Linked DNA regions of Homo sapiens. The protein of the gene in region 2 purifies or fractionates together with the protein of the main gene of each other region. This does not show direct contact. Each region holds a gene or a part of one and is shown on either strand. Other genes may lie near its edges.

Region 1 (4,968 bases), 6.3 Mb from region 2:
ACTGCAACCTCAACCTCCCTGGGGTTCAGGTGATCCTCCCACCTCAGCCTCCCAAGTAACTGGGACTATAGGTGTACACCACTATACCTCGCTATTTTTTTTTTTTTTGTAGAGATGGGGTTTCACCATGTTGCCCAGGCTGGTCCCGAGTGGAGCTCCTCTTGAACCCCCTCTGTCCCTACCTCGTTGGAGTCGTCCAGCAGAGTGACATGGAAGGAGATGAGTCCTGTGAAGCCGGCATCAGGGAAGGACAGGCCTTCCACGAAGAAGCGCTCCTCATCCCCATGCAAGCGGGGTACCTCATAGGACACCTTATCTTGGCCCAGCACATGCCTATAGGCCTCACACACATCCTCAGGACCTGGAAGGGGAGGGACGGGGTGGCTGTGACTCCCTGTGGGCCCAGGGAGCATGAGTATGAGGGACACAGGAAGAGGTCTGCAGCCTCACCAAAAATTCCAAGTCCTCCAACAACTCCCTCCTTTCACCTCCACTGGCAAAGGAGAGGACAGGTAATACACAGTGGGGGCCACGGCTGGGGGAAAGGGTCTTCCTTTCTAAGACTGGCGCTCATACCTTTTTGGAGCACAATTTGGCAGCATCCAACAAAGTAATGTTTACCCCAAGCCCAGCAATTCCACTGCTAGGTATCTTTCCTACAAAAATACATCTACAGGCTGGGCACGGTGGCTCATGTCTGTAATCACAGCACTTTGGGAGACCGAAGGCGGTGGATCACCTGAAGTTAGGAGTTCAAGACCAGCCTGGCTAACATAGTGAAACCCTGTCTCTACTAAAAATACAAAAATTAGCCGGGCGGTGGTGGTGCACACCTATAATCCCAGCTACTCAGGAGGCTTAGGCAGGAGGATTGCTTGAACCCAGGAGGCGGAGGTTGCAGTGAGCCAAGATCACACCACTGCACTCCAGCCTGGGCATGGAGCGAGAATCCATCTCAAAAAAAACCAAAACCAACAAAAAACAAAACAACAACAACAAACAAACAATAATAGGTACAAAGTCACATAATATTTCTGTACAAGAGTGCTCGATATTCATTAATTCATCAAATATTTACTGTGCAACTACAGTGCACCCATGGGGCACGGTTCTGGACTTGAACAAAGCCCCTGACCTCAAGCAACCTGCATTGTTATAAAATCAAAACACTGCAAACCACTATGATGTTCAGAGAACTGTGTAAGTCACAGCACCTCTATGCTTAGGAATATTATACAGCAGTGGAAAAGAATGAAGTAGAGCTCAATAAATACCAGAAAAGGTGTGTGGGATTATTACTTAATGAAAGAAGCCGGTTGGAAAGCAGCATATGGACACACGCTGGAGAACATGTAGAATAAAGTTGGGAAGCACACATCCCAACTCGTTAACAGTGACAATCAGATTCAGGCCAGGTGCGGCGTCTCACGCCTATAATCCTAGTACTTTGAGAGGCCAAAGCGGGTGGATTGCTTGAGCCCAGGAGTTCACGACCAGCCTGGGCAGCATGGTGAAACCCTGTCTTTACAAAAAAAAAAAAATTAGCAGGGTGTGGTGGTACATGCCTGTAGTCCCAGCTACTCGTGAGGCTAAGGTGGAAGGATTGCTTGAGCCTGAAAGGTGGAGGCTGCAGTGAGCTGAGATCATGCCACTGCACTCCAGCCCGGGCAACAGAGCAAGACCTTGACTCAAAAAAAAAAAAAAAAAGTCAGATTTAGAGACGGGTAGAGAACTCTCAGGTTTCATTTTCTATACTTCCATATTGTCTGATTATTTAAAAAATAAGCGGCCAGGCACGGTGGCTCACGCCTATAATCCCAGCACTTTGGGAGGCCGAGGCGGGCAGATCACAAGGTCAGGAGATTGAGACCATCCTGGCTAAGACAATGAAACCCTGTCTCTACTAAAAATACAAAAAATTAGCTGGGTGTGGTGGCACATGCCTGCAGTCACAGCTACTTGGGAGGCTGAGGCAGGAGAATCGCCAGAACCCAGGAGGTGGAGGTTGCAGTGACCCGAGGTCACGCCACTGTACTCCAGCCTGAGCAACAGAGCGAGACTCTGTCTCAAAAAAAAAAAAAAAAAAAAAAAAAAAGCATCTTATTACTTGTATACATTTTTAGTTTCTCAAAGGCATTTAGATTTTTACTTGTATTTCTTGTGATTTTGGCAGACTATGTAAAACAACAGCCATCTATATTTGGGGGGAATACAAACTGAATTAATTGGGTGAAATCTATGGTGTTTGGGGTTGGTTTTACAAAACTTCAGCGAGACAGACAAAACAGTGATAATTGTTTAATCTGAGTGACAGGCACATGGGGATTCACAGCACTGCTTTTTGTGTATGTTTGAAATTTTTGATAAGAATTTCTACACATGCTTAAAATGTATTTGAAAAGGTCATTCATCAAATAAAATGACCTCAGGCCAGGTGTTGTGCTGGGGGCACCAGTTCATCAGTTCCAAAGCCCCCACTTCTGACTGTTCTTACTGCGACCCGCCACCCACCAGGGCATCTCCCGGAGTGTAAGCAGGACCTGCCCATGGCCCAAGGCAGGAACAGGAGGTTCCCTGGTAGGCAACCTGGCAACAGGGCACAGATGGCAAGGGGCAGTGGCACAAACTCACCGCAGATGTGGAAGACCTGTGCCCGTTTGGCATCATAGCTGGAGGTATGGAGGACAAGTTTGTGGTCATCAAAGAGGGCTGCAGGGCCCTGCGTCCGCAGGACCATGACAGACATGTCTTCCAGGTCTGTGAAGCCAGACAGAGTGGTAGTGACTCAAGGGAGTCCTGGCCCCTGGCCCCTTCCTCTGCTGCCCAGCTCCCTCCCCAGGTCAGTGGGTATCAAGACCTGGGTCTCCCAGCCCTAGCTTTGTGAAAACCCTGGAAGCCATCAAGAACAAACCATGAAGACATCTATGCTCTCCTGGACTCATGTTTCCTCAATTGCCCAGAGAAACATGAAGTGTGGCATAGCCAGCTGGTGTCTGACACACAACAGGTGCTCCAGAGAAGCAAGGAGGGTAAGGCCATGTGGGCGTCGTGCAGGTAAGGGTTCTGGCCTCCATCCCAGCATCACTCCCTGTGACCCTGGACAAGCCCCTCCCTTCTGGAGCCCCAGCATCCCCATGTCCAATGGTGCCCACTTCAGAAGGCAACCGTGGGCATCTCCCGTGGACAGCACCTAGCATACCCTGGAATATTGCAGCTCATTCTCCATGGGGCTGGAATTCAGGACAGATGGACTTAGCAAGAGGTGGGGGAGTCACAGAAATGTAGGCCAGAGGTGCTGAAGGAGGAGGCCCAGATTTGGGGTTGAGAGGGGAGGCCCCAGATCAGACACAGTCTTCAGGGAGTCTCCTGGCTTCTGAGTCTCAGCATCCTCATCTCTAAATTGGGGTGATGATATTGTCCCACTTGGATGATTCAATGAGAATTTGGGGAAAAGGCCTGGCACACAGTAGGTGCTCAAATAATGCTAGCATCCTCTGCTCCCCTGGAGGAAGAGAATGGCGAGGTGGCTCATTTCCAGAGCTTCTGCCCTGGCATGTGAGTGCTCACTGGCCCTAGAGACACTAGGGAGGGGCAGCTGCCAGCCTGAGATGGGTTTTGAGGAGCATCGAGGTGTGTCTGGAGGCTGGCGCTCTCCCCTGGACTCTGGCCTCAGAGTCTCGCCTGTGGGTTGGAACTCCCATGGGGTAACTGAGCAGTGACCCTGGACACCCAGGGACTCAGGCTGCCCCGGCCTCACCTTGCAGGCAGTGCACGTGCTGGTCACAATTGTCCTGGACATCACAGCTCGGATCATCACGGTCACAGTTCACCAGCAAGATGCCGCCATACCCACTGGGCCCCCAGACCCACTGCCGCTGCCAATGACAAAACATAGCCAGTGATGAGGGCTCAGATGAGACCTGTGCCTCCCTACCCAGGAACCCGAGCCTGGCCTGTAACCACCCAACCCTGTGAGGCTAGGTCCACGTTCTCGAAGCACCTCCTTCTCAAGACATGTCAATGGCAATGGCTCTCTGTTGCCCACACCATCCAGTCCAAAGCACAGAGCTGTCTTTCATGGCTATCTGTGATGGGCCTTCAGCCAACATCCTCTTTCTCAATAGGCAACCTGATTATAGGACCACACGCCTCACTCTGTGCTCATTCCTCCATTAAACCCTCCTTGGTTTTGCTCCTGCCATTCCCTGCACCTGGAACGTCCTCCCTCCTGCACCCCTTCAGAGCTCAGCTCAAGGGTACGTCCCTCCAGGAAGCCTTCCTCACCCACCCAGCCCACCTCGACCTTCTCCTCTTAACTCCCAGGGCACCAAGTTCCAACATAATTCAGTCCCAAGTTCTTCAACAGTTTCATATTTGGTTTCTCTTCTCGCCTAGGTCAGGATCAGCACATTATGAACTGTGGGCCAAATCTGGCCTACTGCCTGTTTGTATAAATAAAGTTTTATTAGCACACAGTCACATCCATCCATTTCTGTATTAACTGTGGCTGCTTTCACACTATAGTGGCAGAATTGAGACCATATGTCCCACAAAGCCTAAAATACTTGCTATGTGACTTTTCACGGAAAAAGTTTGCCCACTCCTGACCTAGTTTATGAGTCCAGAAGGTCTTGATCCCACAAACCAAGGCCTAGCTCAGGGCTGGGTACCTCCATGCCTGATAATTCCTGGCGATGATTTTTCTCCTGGTGAAAGAAGATCCCCAGCCATGCCTGGTTTCTGTTTTTGGCCCTTGGTCTCGGCATCAGCTGGGAGGCAGGGGGATATCTGTAATGGCCTCATCCTTCTTAACCCAACCTAGAGCAAGCTCCAACTGCACTCCTGCTTCCTGGGCCCAGGCAGAGATGCTTACCTTGTCTACAAAGTTCCTGTCCTGCCTTCCCTCACAGTTCAGGTCGCAATCCAGAGAGATGTCTGCAAGAGGAGGCAGAGGGTAAGTCACTACAA
Region 2 (5,420 bases):
TGCAATGAGCAATGATTGTCCCACTGCACTCCAGCCTGGGTAACAAAGCGAGACCCTGTCTCAAAAAAAAAGAAAGAGTCCCATGCAAAGACCTGGGGAAGGGCATTCCTCAGCAGAGGAAATAGTCAGTGCACAGCAAACAGTCGGAAATGAGTTTGGTGTGTTTGTGTTTAAGGACTCAAAAGAAGGTCAGTGGAACTAGAGCCAGTGACAGAGGGGCCGCTGGTGGGCAAAAAGGAGAGGGGCAGGCAGGAGCCATGGCCAGGGGTGCAGGCTGGGGTTTTACCATAAAAAATTGTGGGAAGCCCTGGAGAACTCTAAGCAGGGAAGGAAGAGGATCTCACTTTTTTTTTCTTTTTTGAGACTGAGTATCTCACTCTGTCACCCAGGCTGGAGTGCAGTGGCACAGTCTCGGCTCACTGCAATCTCTGCTTCTCAGATTTAAGTGATTCTCGTGCCTCAGCCTCCTGAGTAGCTAGGATTACAGGCGTGTGCCACCACGCCTGGCTAATTTTTGTATTTTTAGTAGAGTCGGGGGTTTCACCATGTTGGCCATGGCTGGTCTTGAGCTCCTGGCTTCAAGTTATTCGCCCACCTCAGCCTCTCAAAATGCTGGGATTACAGGTGTGGGCCACCGCACCCAGGGCAAGGATCTCACATTTTAAAAGACTCTTCGGGCAGCTGAGACTCCAACTATTTAAAATGACTGCAGGCAAGAACCTAAACTTCCCACAAAGAAGCTTTCCTTAGAGGAGTTCAGGAAATAATCCTGAAGCCAGAAGCTGGAAAGAAAGAATGACAGGGAGAGATTGGCAGAATGTGGAGCATTGAGAAAGCTCCTGCCTCCTGGCGGGAGTGAGGTTGGTTCAACCACTCTTGGGAACTGGTAGAATCTACTAAGACTGAACATTCCTCCACCCTTCGACCCAGCGCTTCCTCTCCAACTGCAAGGCAAGCACAAGGGCATCAGAGGACACGTGCAAGACTGTTGACAGCAGTGCTATTATTTCCTGTAACCTGGAAACCACCCCAGCGCCCAGCAGTGGTAGAATGGACCCATTGTGGTCTACTCCTACAATGGAATACTGAACTGCAATGAAAAGAAAGAAACTACTATTGGACGGGTGCAGTGGCTCACGCCTGTAATCCCAGCACTTTGGGAAGCGGAGGCGGGCGGATCACTTGAGGTCAGGGGTTTGAGAGCAGCCTAGCCAACATGGTGAAACCCTATCTCTACTAAAAATACGAAATTAGCCAGGTGCGGTGGCGCATGCCTGTAATCCCAGCTACTCAGGAGGCTGAGGCAGGAAAATCGCTTGAACCTGGGAGGTGGAGGTTGTGGTGAGCCGAGATCTCACCATTGCGCTCCAGCCTGGGCAACAAGAGCAAAACTCCGTCTCAAAAAAAAGAAAGAAAGAAAGTTAACAGTTTAAAAAGCAATGTGAAAAGGCAGGAATGGGTGCTGCATTTCCTTCTAGGGCTGCCCTCGTTGAGCCATTCGATTCCTGGGTGGGCAGAGGGCCAGGGCCTCAGGCCCAGCCCAGGGAGGCCAAATGCCAGGGCCCACAGTCTCCCCAGAGTGGGTTGGCAAAGAATGACAGGACTGGTTCCCCAGCCTGGAATCTAAGCTGAGCCTGCAGCCTTTGAGCTGGGAGGAGCTTGCGGCTGCCTGGCTGCCCCGCTGCCCCGCTTCATTCGCTGAATTCAGAAGCGCCTGTGGCGAGCCTCTCCCATGGACGGCCGGGTACCCGCCCTGGGCTCTGCTGCCTGGACACTGAGCCCAATGCGGAATTCCTCTCCCAGCAGCGGGGAGGCGCTATTATTAGTTGATTAATTTGCAAAACAAAAACCTGGCTGGGGCAATTGGTCTTGAAGGAAGGTTCTCCCAGAGCGAGTAAATCTGAGACAGGACCAGAAGAATAATCTTGGGGAAAAGGAAAGTGGCTGACTCTGGTGCTGAGTCCCGGCCTTGCCAGGGACCCCGACTCTGCTGTTACACAGGGAATGCTGTCTGGAATCGGCCCGGTGGCAGGTGGGGGGTAGACAGCTCTCCCCTCCGTCTGATGCCTGCTCCTGTTCTCCTCCTTGAGCATCAATCGGGAGAAAGATGTGGGTTTGGGTTTTTCCCCCTCACTTCTCAGACCCAGAACTGCCCCATCCCAGTCTGGGGGGAGACATGATGCTCCATCCCCCAAAGCTGAGCCCCCTCATGGGGCATCCAGGAGAAGGCAATGGGTCCCCAGGACAGGGCCCGGACCTCCCCCTTGCTCGCCCAGCCCCACAAAGCCCCACTCAGCTTCTCCACTGCCTTCATTGTCTACAGACTTCAACCTCACAAAACGCCCAACAAAAGCCCTGCAGTCCACGGCCCAAAGGCCACAAGCCAGCTATTGTGACATTCCAGCTGGCCTGGGAGGCTTCACTTCCCACTCTCAGGAGCTTTTTAAAGTATCTCTTAAAAATGCATCTCAGATGGGGAAAAGAGGTAGCAATTCTGTTGCCAAGGAAAATGAGATTTTGGCCAAGTGCAGTGAGTCATGCCCGTAATCCCAATACTTTGGGAGGCCGAGACAGGAGGATGGCTTGAACCCAGGAGTTTAAGACCAGCCTGGGCAACACAGTAAGACCCTGTCTCTACAAAAAAATTAAAAAATTACCAAAGTGTGGTGGCACATGCCTATGGTCCCAGCTACTCAGGAGGCTAAAGTGGGATGATCACTTGAGCCCAGGAGTTAAGAGATGACAGTGAACTATGATCTTGCCACTGCACTCCAGCCTGGGCAACAGAGCAAGACTCTATCTCAGGAAGAAGGAGAGACAGAGAGGGAGAGAGAGAGAGAAAGAGAAAAGAAAGGAAAGGGAAGGAAGGAAGGAGAAAGGAAGGAAGGCAGGGAGGGAAGGAAGGAAGGGAGGGAAGGAAGGAAAATGAAATTTTCTCCTAATCCTTACAATCGAATAGCTAGCGACCACAACTCCTATCATTTGAAAACTCCTTGAAATCAAGCATCTCTTGGTCAACTTGACCCCTAATTTGTTTTGTTTTAAGGACCCTCTAGGACAAGGAAGACGTGTTCTGTTTTCTCCCAATCTTCTGGAAATCCTTCCCAAGATGGGAGGACTGGAATTCCAGAACAAGGGATGACAGGAGCATGAGAAAGGTGGGAGAGACTGTGGCCGGACCTCACCTGAGAAAGTCAGCCCTTCCCAAGGCATCCATGCATCTGGGCCCCTCACCCATTTGGCCCCCTTCCCTCTTAGATGCAAGGCTTCTGATTCTGATGGAAGATATTTGGCTTCTTCAAGGAGTGTGGGCACACTAAGCATGCCACTGGCTTCTCCCAATTCCTGAATAAGGGACACTTACCAGGCAAGTGCTGGGGACCCCCACATCCTCAGGCCCAGCAGCTCTCTCCTGCCCTGGGAGAATTTAATCTGAAGCAGTTCCAAGCAACTAAACGAAAGGTTGGCTCCTCCCCTTCCCCTCCAGTGCAGGTCTCGGGTCACTCAGGTGCCAGAAAACACAGGTGGGTGTCAACACTCTCAGCTTCTCCCCATCCCTCTGCATGGGTGAGATGAATTGCTTCAGCCGTGGGAGCTCAAAATAAGATTGCGGATCAGAAGGCTGAAGATGAATTGATCCACTGAGGCTGGAGTGCAGGCCCTCATTCTCCGCTCCCGGGAGAAGCCTGTCTCTGTGCCCAAGGAAGGAAAGAAGCTAAGAAACTGAGCTTCACCGGAGGAACAGTCACGCTGTCTTGATGGGGCTTCCCAGAACCCTGCTCCAGGCCCCTCCTGGCAGAGTTCAAAAGGAGCTGAGGGGCCAGGCATGGTGGCTCATGCCTGTAACCCCAGCATTTTGGGATGCAGAGATGGGCAGATTGTTTGAGGTCAGGAGTTCGAAACAAGCCAGGGGAACATGGCAAGACCCTGTCTCTACAAAAAATTTAAAAACTAGCTGGGCATGGTGGCACACACCTGTGGTCCTAGCTACTCAGGAGGCTGAGGTGAGAGGATTGCTTGAGCCCAGGAGGTTGAGGCTGCAGTGAGCCCTGATTGTGCTACTGCACTCCAGCCTGGGCAACAGAACAAGACCCTGTCTAAAAAAAAAAAAAAAAGGGGCCGGGCACAGTCACTCATGCCCATAATCCCAGTGATTTGGGAGGGCGAGGCAGGCTGATCACCTGATGTCAGGACTTCGAGACCAGCCTGGCCAACATGGTGAAACCTTATCTCTACTAAAAATACAAAACTAGCCAGGTGTGGGGGTGCACGCCTGTAATCCCAGCTACTTGGGAAGTTAAGGCAGGAGAATTGCTTGAACCCGGGAGATGGAGGTTGCAGTGAGCCAAGATCGTACCATTGTACTGCAGCCTGGGTGACAAGAGCAAAACTCCGTCTAAAAAAAAAAAAAAAAAAAAAAAAAAAAAAAAAAAAAAAAAAAAAGACCAGGCGCAGTGACTCACGCCTGTAATCCTAGCACTTTGGGAGGCTGAGGTGGGTGGATCATCAGGTCAGGAGTTTGAGACCAGCCTGGCCAACATGGTGAAACCCTGTCTCTACCAAAAATACAAAAAATAGCCGGGCTTGGTGGTGGGCACCTGTAATCCCAGCTACTCTGGAGGCTGAGGCAGGAGAATCGCTTGAACCTGGAAGGCAGAGATTGCAGACAGCTGAGATCGTGCCATTGCACTCCAGCCTGGGCGATACAATAAGACTCCGTCTCAAAAAAAAAAAAAAAAAGGAAGAGGAGATTAGGGCACGGACACATACGGAGGAATGACGGTGTGAGGACACAGGGAGAAGATGGCCAGCTGTGAGCCAGAGAGGCAGCTCCGGAGAAACCAGCCCTGCCTGCACCTTGATCTCAGACTCCTAGCCTCTAGAACTGTGAAGAAATCAATTGGTGTGTAAATCCCAAGTCTGTGGTACTCTGTCGTGGCAGCCCTTGCAAACAAATATCCCTGCAAAATGAGGATTTAGGACTAGATGGTTCCTAATACCCTTTGCAAGTGAAAAAAAAAAAAAGTCTTGATTTTAACTATTCCATTTTATCTGTGTTTATCCCTTCCTCCCCCCGCCCCAAATACTTGCCATTATTGAAAGTCGAGGAAGCCAGGCACAGTGGCTCACTCCAGCCTGGGCAACAGAGCAAGATTGTATCTCAGGAAGAGAGACAGAGAGGGAGAGAGAGAAAGAGAGCCTGTAATCCCAACATTTTAGGAGGCTGAGGTTGGCAGATCACCTGAGGTCAGGAGTTCGAGACCAGCCTGGCCAATATGGCGAAACCCCATCTCTACTAAAATTACAAAAATTAGCCGGGCATGATGGCACACGCCTGTAATCCCAGCTACTCAGGAGGCTGAGGCAGGAGAATCGCTTGAACCCAGGAGGCGGAGGTTGCAAGTGATCCAAGATGGCGC

The links.
Region 1: the proteins of CIROZ (region 2) and PADI3 purify together in Homo sapiens (affinity purification with mass spectrometry; one large-scale study listed by BioGRID and IntAct). This does not show direct contact.

What each region holds. Positions count from the first base shown.
Region 1 is NC_000001.11:17,265,626-17,270,593, reverse strand, and holds part of PADI3 (protein-arginine deiminase type-3), read right to left. Parts: intron 4,936-4,968; coding exon 4,874-4,935; intron 4,528-4,873; exon of another isoform or gene 4,298-4,527; intron 3,876-4,297; coding exon 3,758-3,875; intron 2,758-3,757; coding exon 2,632-2,757; intron 362-2,631; coding exon 183-361; intron 1-182. UniProt on the Homo sapiens protein: Catalyzes the deimination of arginine residues of proteins.
Region 2 is NC_000001.11:10,978,648-10,984,067, forward strand, and holds the start of CIROZ (ciliated left-right organizer ZP-N domains-containing protein isoform 1 precursor), read right to left. Parts: upstream 3,430-5,420; 5' UTR 3,391-3,429; coding exon 3,365-3,390; intron 1-3,364. UniProt on the Homo sapiens protein: Plays a role in left-right patterning process.